2 separate regions of the Homo sapiens genome follow, and region 2 is linked to region 1. Evidence: fine-mapped expression QTL. A gene starts in region 1. The other region holds a variant in brackets. All regions are shown on one strand. Distances are from middle to middle. Region 1 holds the start of BDH2 (3-hydroxybutyrate dehydrogenase 2). Region 2 overlaps CENPE (centromere protein E).

Evidence for each region. PIP is the estimated chance that this variant, and not a neighbour inherited with it, causes the effect. A credible set is the group of variants that fine-mapping cannot tell apart.
Region 2: its variant is the best candidate, but not a certain one, in a credible set for the expression of BDH2 in whole blood (INTERVAL, PIP 0.88).

Annotation. Positions count from the first base shown.
Region 1 is chr4:103,097,668-103,102,069 of GRCh38, reverse strand. It overlaps BDH2 (3-hydroxybutyrate dehydrogenase 2), which reads left to right and starts at 2,236. Exons shown (of 10, transcript NM_020139.4): 1 at 2,236-2,287.
Region 2 is chr4:103,132,866-103,137,267 of GRCh38, reverse strand. CENPE (centromere protein E) reads left to right here. Exons shown (of 49, transcript NM_001813.3): 40 at 909-1,127; 41 at 3,376-3,573; 42 at 4,372-4,402. Among named protein-coding and RNA genes, the nearest start is that of BDH2, 35 kb to the right of the region's middle. The variant A/C (reference allele first, on the strand shown) is at 2,215.

The DNA.
Region 1 (4,402 bases):
ATAGTGCCTGCCCACATTGGGTGAAGTAGATCCTTACCCAGTTCACTGATTCCAATGCCGATCTCTTCCAGAAACACTCAGAGATGTCCCAGAAATAATGCTTACCAGCTCTCTGGGGATCCGTAAATCCAGTCAAGTTGACACCTAAAATTAATTATCACAAACATTGTCTTGAGAGCCTGGCAGAATTATATTCAGGAAACTTATTAAGAAACTGCCATTCACTCAGCAAATATTTAATGAGCATCTACTATCTGCCAATTACTGTTTTAGGCACTGAAAGGCACTACCAATGTGGAACTCATATTGTAGATAAGAAAACAAGTAACTAATACTCTTTTAATACGAGCTAATCACAATGTAAAGGTGTAAAACATAGTCCCCACCCTTGAAGAAATTTAGTCTGCTGAGAATACTAATGGGTAAGCAAGTATTTGCAATACCATGTGACTTAGGCTGTTATCAAGTAAGCATTGTTGCTGAAGATTACAGAGGGATGCTGAAGAAAGCTACATCAAGAAGCATTGGAGTTGGCTTTGATTAGAGAACTCTCATAAAGTCTGTTCCAAAAGCCTCAAAAGTCAAAGGGCATTATTAGTAAAGCAGGAACAAAGCTAGATGTGATTACAGATTGTTAGAGCCAGCATTAGAAGTTGCTGAAACAATGAACAAGGAGGGACAATTTTACCATAGACCTCATATAGACACATGCAGAAACTAAGTCCAGTTTTTAAAAGAACATTAAAAAGCGCAACTTTTACCATCCATTATAATTAAATTTCTCCAACAATGTCTTCATCATAAGAATCACTAACATGTATTAAGCACCTGTGTGGCAAACATTGTGCTGATGGATTCACAGGCTTAGTCGTTCCTCCTCACCACATCCCTGAGGTAGGTGCTATTTTACCTTCATTTTACAGATGAGAAACATAAGAGGTTCAGAGATTTAAGTGATTTACTCACTTAGCTAGTGAGAGAGAGATATGGGACTTGCTCTAGTCTTACTGACGCCACAGTCTTTGTTCTTATCCCCTGTGACTGTTAGAAATCACTTAGCTCCATGTAACAAAAAACGTGAAAAACACTAAAGTTTATTGTCCTCACATAAGAAGTCCAGAGGAGTTGTTGCCTTGAGGCTGTCATCAGGGCCGCAGGCTCCTTCTCTTGCTGGTCCCTGTCGTTAATGTGTGCCTCTGGCCTCAGATGAACTCACTAAATGGCTGCTCTGTCCCACGGCATCCTATCTTCATTCCAGGCAAAAAGAAAGGGAGGAGCAAAAGCTAAAAGCCTTTCAGAAGGGCTTACTTTTCTATTTAAGAAGGAGGCCCTCCTCAGAAATTCCCACCTGCATTTCATTGGCAACATCTATGCTGCTTGGCCACCCCTAGCAGCAAACAAGGCTATGAAGTAGAGACTTTTGTTTTCCAGCTTTGACAAGTGAAAAAAGGGGAAAGTGAGTTGGATGGGTGCTGAGGAAACCAATTTATACAGTACATGTACAAGTAGCCTACACAATCACTCTGCTCACTGGCACTACAGATAAAGCACATGTTGCTATCCTAACCTAGAGGGCTCATGAGATCTAGTCCTTTCTTTTTGACCTTATATCTCTGTTCTCTTCAGCCAAACTGGGGTTTTTCGCTGTTAACATGTTCCCTTTTAAGCCTCCACCCTGTCATCCAAGTTTCACGTTCTCCCCAACCCCATTCCCAGTGTAGTAAAAGGCTCCTGGCATTCTGCCACTAAATGTGCATTAGTGTTAGAATATTCTGAGCATGAAAAAATAAAAATCACAACTGTATCTCAAACAAAAAGGATTTTTTTTTTTATTTCTCTCCCTTAAAACAATCCAGGCCAAGTGACAGGAAGGCTCCAGAATTTTCAGTGACCTGGGTTCCCTCTATTTTGTTGCTCTGCTATCTTCCACACGCAGTTTCCAGCTCAGCCAATCTCGTCTACCCTGGCACCGCATATAGTAGGCATAAACAAAACAGAGAAGTGGAGAGACTGAAGTGAAGGAAATGATTTCCGCATCCTAAGTAAGCTCTAAGGTGCTTTTCCACTTTTCACCTTCCACTTGGAATTCATAGTTCTACCTGAATTCCACTAGATGGCAGCACATACATTTATAAAGTGTATGGATGGAGCCACTAAACTCTGAAAGCAGGGAAACTACAAATCCCAGCATGCATTATTAAGCGCTTGACTTGCTTCCAGACAAAGGTTGTCTCAAGTTTGTTGCTCAAACCGAGTTCTGGAGAACGCCATCAGCTCGCTGCTTAAAGTAAGATTTCCTAATACTTTTGAAATGAAACTTTAGAACGGAAAGAGGGGAGGTTTAATTTTTAGATGTTGTTTTTTTCTGCACGTTGCCTGTTTCAAAATTAATCTGAGCAGTTAGATCAGTGTAAAGATGGGTTTTTAAAGAGCCTGAAACTCTGTGGTATGTATGTTTTATAAAGTAGCCCAAGAAAAAAGGATTCTTACGGTATCCTAAGTGAAGAGTTTTCTTCCTGGCTCTTGAAAACAATGGCTTCCTGAATATGCTGTTTGTGTCTCTGCTAATCAAAAATCAACATTTTGATTCTAACTTTTGGACTAAGGAAGCCAACATGTATGGTTTTCACATTGGATATATTGAGAGGTGCCTTGTTTTACCATTTCAGGCCGTGTTTGCTCTCATTTTCTCAAAGAAATCTGTTTTAGTTTGAGATTACAGTTTATCAAATGTTAAGGCTTTGACCCCAAAATCTGGTCCCAGAAAGACAGGAAGGCCAGCTAAGAGGAGGTTTTCAGAGTGCATAGAAAGGCTGCTCTGTGCTTCGGCATTTGTTCTGGAAGTGCTTCTTCGGTTGGCAAAGATTCCTAGCAAAACCTTTGACTGGAGGCTTTACAGGGCCATACACCCAATATCACTAATGACAGTGTTGTAAAATAGCTTTTGTGCACCATGCTTAGGATTCAAGGAGGATAAAGTATATCTTTCTAAAGTTATACTTTAGAAACTGTCATTCCATGTTGAAATGATAAACATTCCATGTTTATCTTTTGTGTAAGAAGTAAAAAAGCAAAAATTCATTGCATCAAAGTAGGTCAGGCACTGTTAAAGCCAAGCTTCCCCATCGCCTAAAAAATGTGGACAAACTCAGAGGAAGTCAGTGATTATAAGCTGATCCCTGGAGCCAGTTCTTACATAATTGTGTTAGTCTGCTCCTCCAAGAAGCAGACTCCAAGATAGAATTAAATATGCATGGATTTTATTAGGGGAAATGCTGTTGTGAGAGAGAATGAGGAGAGAACTAGGTAAGGCTGTGAGAGCCATCAGACCTCGATGCAAGTCCACCCGCGAGGGAGGAAAAGAAGGAAACCAGGTTGAGTGGAAGCATCCCAGACAGCTGTGCAGTCTAAGAGAACTTCAGCAAGGTAATAAGGAGCTTCTCTAGCCAGTCATCCGTTGGGGAGGAGGTCTATGTCTCCCAGAAATGAGTCTGCCTTAGTAAGCATGCATGCTCAGGCACTGGCTTGTAACGGCCCCGAGAAGGTGGCCTCAGCACAAACCCAGAGAGGCAGCAGCAGCTGCGCCTCATTGTCCATTACTTCCTGGGGTCAGCGGTCTGCGAGGCACAGGCTCCTGGTGCCACAGTGGGGATTTAGAGAGGCCCGCAGGGCTTTGAGTACCATGAGACAATGCCATGAGATCTTCCCTTGGACCTGCAACAAGAAGGCCTAGGTTTGAATTCATAGCTGCAAAACACTGGGCAAATAACATTTCTTTGAAATTAGCCACGTTGGTGATCAGGTCCTACCTATCTCATCTCTGAAACACTTCTCCAATCCACCTATCTCTCCATCCCTGCTATTTTCTCCAGCCCTGCTATTTCACCAGCGCCCCCACTAGATAACCCTAGCAGCCTCCTAATGGCACCCCATGCTCCTGCCCAGGTATGTTCTCCACAGCAGTCCTTCCAAAATACGAATCTGATCATTTCACACCCTTTCCATAAATCCTTCAGTGGCTGTTGCCTATAGGAGTAACTTGCCCTTCACCATGTGGACCTTGGACCAAGTGTGGAGGTTTGAAATGGAAGAGCATATTGGGTATAAAAAAAAAAAAGTTTGGCTAAAGAGAGAACTGAAATAAGTTCAAAGAGAAAGGACTAGGTAATATAAGCCCTTTAGGCAAGGCTATCAACCTGTACAAAATCAGGCAGATAATGGAACAGAGTGATTGTGTAGGCTAGTTTGCATGTACTGTAAGTTGGTTCATCAACACCATCCAACTCACTTTCTCCTATTCTTCACTTTATCAAAGCTGGAAACAAAAGTCTCAACTTCCAACCTCTTTGCAGCTAGGAGTGGCCAAGTAGCATAGATCTGGTGAATGAACTGCAGGTGGGAA
Region 2 (4,402 bases), 35 kb before region 1:
AGGTACCATACTGGGTGCTTTACCTCATGATATAGGCTTTATTGCTCCATTCATAAACAAGGAAACTGCCTTCCTCAGAAAGGAAGTTTAGCAGTTGCCCAAGGTTACACAGCTAGTAAATTGTTAGAATCAGAATTTTAAACTAAGTCAGACTTGTATCTGACTTAGTTCAAAACTTGGGTATAGAAACATGTTTATAAACATAATTTTGTCTCCTTCAAGTTAAATGACTGTGTCTGTTTTATAGATTACATAGGTATATAGGTATAGATCATATATTTTACTTGACCCCAGAAAACTTTGTGGTAATTATTGTAGTCTTCCTGTTGTTGTGAAAATGGCTCAGTGACTTCCCCAGTCAAGAAGTGGCAGAGCTGGAACCTGAACTCTACCTCTGATAAAGGGTTAGAAAACAGATTGTAGGCAGATAGTAGGATTGTGTGAAGTATCTGTACCAAGCTGACAAATAGGTGGTTTGATTCTTAATCACTTGTTTTATCTGCTAACTCAGACTGCCTACTATAAACATAAACCAGCACTCAACCATGAACTACAATACATACTTAATTGAATTTACTCAAATTTCTCATCAGACTTTGTCAATGTTGATTCATATCATGGATATTCAAAAAACTAAAAGAAAATGCATCAAAATGTTAAGAATGGTTGGTCCTGGCTTTCTTTGTTATATTTGCTTAAATTTTTTAAATTGCCATAATAATTATCTATTATTTCTGTTATCCAAAATGACAACAAGAGTTTCCTTTTGTTTTTAGACACAAAGGTCTTTATTTCTCTCCTACAGAAAATGTTAAAGCATAAGTTTTGTTACAATTCTAGAGTTGTAACTACTTATTGTGATATTAGAATGAATTGTTATAAATTGAGTGAATTCTCATTTCCTTTAGGAGCTTTTGAAGAGATACTCAGAGATGGATGATCATTATGAGTGCTTGAATAGATTGTCTCTTGACTTGGAGAAGGAAATTGAATTCCAAAAAGAGCTTTCAATGAGAGTTAAAGCAAACCTCTCACTTCCCTATTTACAAACCAAACACATTGAAAAACTTTTTACTGCAAACCAGAGATGCTCCATGGAATTCCACAGAATCATGAAGAAACTGAAGGTACCATCTTTTTTAGTAATATCCTTTTAAATATTTCAGTTATAAACATCAATGTATTTAAGTCCTGCTTCAGGTGCCGGCATATTTGCTATTTAGTATTCTTACTACCAAATTAAAGATTATGTGGGTCTGAGCATAGTAATATGTAGGATATCAGCAACACCTGAACTCTGCCTGTGGGCCTAGACATTATGTCAGGATGTTCAGGAGGCAGATGTGAGTTAACATCTCAAAGATCTCATAGTCTGGGGTGAGACAGACATATAAACAAGTATTAAGTGCAATGATAGAAGTGTATGCAAGTTATATGACGTACTAAATAAAATTACAGAAGATGAAACTGTAGTAGAAGCCAGACTCAATAACAAAGCTTGGAGTTCTTTTTGTAGATGGGGAATCATTAGACTATTGTTTTAAGTGGTGGTGGTAACAGGATCTGATTACCACTTAGGTACTAAACTAAAGAATACAGAAGAAATGAGTTTGAGGGAGATAAGCCTAGTAGCAGAAAGCAATAAGAGGCAGTTACAGTGGTCCAGATGAGATATTATATGTGACTGTACTACTAGGGAGGGTTTCACAGGGCTGGAGAGGACAAACGAGATTAAAGAAATATTTAGCAGCTTAAAATAGTAGGTCGAAATAATTGATAGTGGACATAAGGGAGAGAAGTTTAGATGGAGTTCTTGGATTTGGGCTTAGTCAGGTTTGTCGATAGTGGTACCATTAACTGAGATTCAAAAATAAAAAAGAAAGAGAAACAAGGTAGATGAGGCAGGAGATTGTTTAATTTGAGATGTTTGGGGGCTGAAATACCTATGATGGAACATCCAAGAAGAGAAACCAAGTAGACATTTAGATTTGAGTTTGAGGTTTGGCAGGAGAAAAATAAGAACTAACATTTGAGACTGATCAGCATATAGGTGATAGATAATACATTTGTAAGATCATCCAGAAAGCATAATGAAGACTAAGAGCCTTGGGATAAAAACAGAACTCTGGAAAAGATAAATGTCTAAGAGGCAGTAGCAGAAAAGGGAGCAACACATGGGTTCAAGGTTGGAAAAGTCAAAGATACAGGAGAGAA[A/C]CTAGCAAAAGTACTGCTACCCAAATCAGTGGAGAAGAGTATGTCAAAGATGAAGTTATGAGTGGCAAATACTTCAGAGAGTCAGAATATGGACTGAAGATATTCTCTCAATGTGGTGATAATAGAACTCATTAGTGATCATTGTCAGAGAACAGTTTCAACTGGGTAGTTAAGGAAGAGACCAGATTATAAGAGGTTAAGGAATGGTGGAAGTTGAGGAATAAGTAAGCTGGTATCTGCCCTACCTGGGTAGATTGCCCTTCGGGCCCTGGTAATTCTTCCACAAATCCTGGTAATCAGACATCTAGAATTATTCATGAAGTCCATGAGACATTTGGCATTGAAATTATTGTCTCTTGAAGCCAAATATCTAAATATGCTTGACAAGGAAGTCTTTTTTTTTTTTTTTTTTTTTTTTGAGACGGAGTCTTGCTCTGTTGCCCAGGCTGGAGTGCAGTGGTGTGATGATCTCGGCTCACTGCAAGCTCCGCCTCCCGGGTTCACGCCATTCTCCTGCCACAGCCTCCAAGTAGCTGGGACTACAGGCGCCTGCCACCACGCCCAGCTAATTTTTTGTATTTTTAGTAGAGACAGGGTTTCACTGTGTTAGCCAGGATGGTCTCGAACTCCTGACCTTGTGATCTGCCCACGTCAGCCTCCCAAAGTGCTGGGATTACAGGCATGAGCCACCATGTCCGGCCGACAAGGAAGTCTTGAGGCATGTAACTTCATCTTTTTGGTTACCCAATCAGCGTTGGCAGGAGAGGATGTTGAAAATGAGTCTCATGAGTTTAACTGGGAAACCTGGGTGATTGGTAATGTAATTAGCCAAAAACTGGGCAATAGAAAAAGGAGGACTTGTAGAGAAAGGGATCATGTTACGTTTTAAACATGTTGAATTTGAAGTACTTGTAAGACATCCAAGAAGTATATCTGGTAAGAAGTCAGAAATAAGGAATTATAGGTCTGGGAGTTAGTTATTCTCCTAAGATACTAAGAGGAAAAACTGGGGATAGAGAGAAGCTCTTTCCCTTTTCCTCACTTGTGAGAGGATATAGGTAAATAAGAGATGTCATCCTACCTCATAGTCTCAAGGATGAAAACTTTCTCTACATGTGACAAAATTTTCATTTACCAATTTGTTTAATTTTTTTCTGCAAGTATGTGTTAAGCTATGTTACAAAAATAAAAGAAGAACAACATGAATCCATCAATAAATTTGAAATGGATTTTATTGATGAAGTGGAAAAGCAAAAGGAATTGCTAATTAAAATACAGCACCTTCAACAAGATTGTGATGTACCATCCAGAGAATTAAGGGATCTCAAATTGAACCAGAATATGGATCTACATATTGAGGTATAATTTATTTTAAATGGATTTAGTTAGATTTTAAGCCTTTTTATCAAGTAGAAAGGTACTTTTTCATGTGCTTAGAGCTATTTTCATTTACCAGAAATTAAAAATACGTTGCAGAGTGATACCTGGCCAGACATAAAGACTGGCAAATAATGGACTAGCCTCTCTTCAGACCTCAATAGATACAGGAAAACTTATGTCTATGCTGGGAGTCAGAAACCGCTTTATTACAACAACTCCACATGGAATGTGTTACTTGCATTCATCTATGTGAGGCTGGCATCCAATTCCCAACATGTATGTAAGGTCTGCTATATGTACTGAAAAGCTACATTTAGAAGCACTTCATGAAGCCAGCCCCAGTGGCATGCCTGTAATTCCAGCTACTTAAGAGGCTCAGGCAGGAGGATCACTTGACTCCAGGGGTTCAAGATCAGCCTGGGCAACATAGTGAGACCATCTCAAAAAATAAAAATTAAGATGCACTTCAGGTATTGTAGCAATTAGTCACAAATTTGTCATTTTGACAAGCTTTAATTCTAATAGGTACAATCTGTTACATCATGTATACTGCCAAAATTATATTATGCAAATAACTAGAATAAAGTTTTAACTTACAATTATATTTCTTAGTTTACTTTAAAATATTAAGAAATGATATTAAAAGGAAGAAAAGCAAGAGTCCACTAGGTATTGCCCTCTTTTTATTTTATATATATATATATATATATATAAATAAAATATTTGGATCAAAACTTTCCTAATGTTTAAACAATTTGACGCTTATTTTTCACACAGGAAATTCTCAAAGATTTCTCAGAAAGTGAGT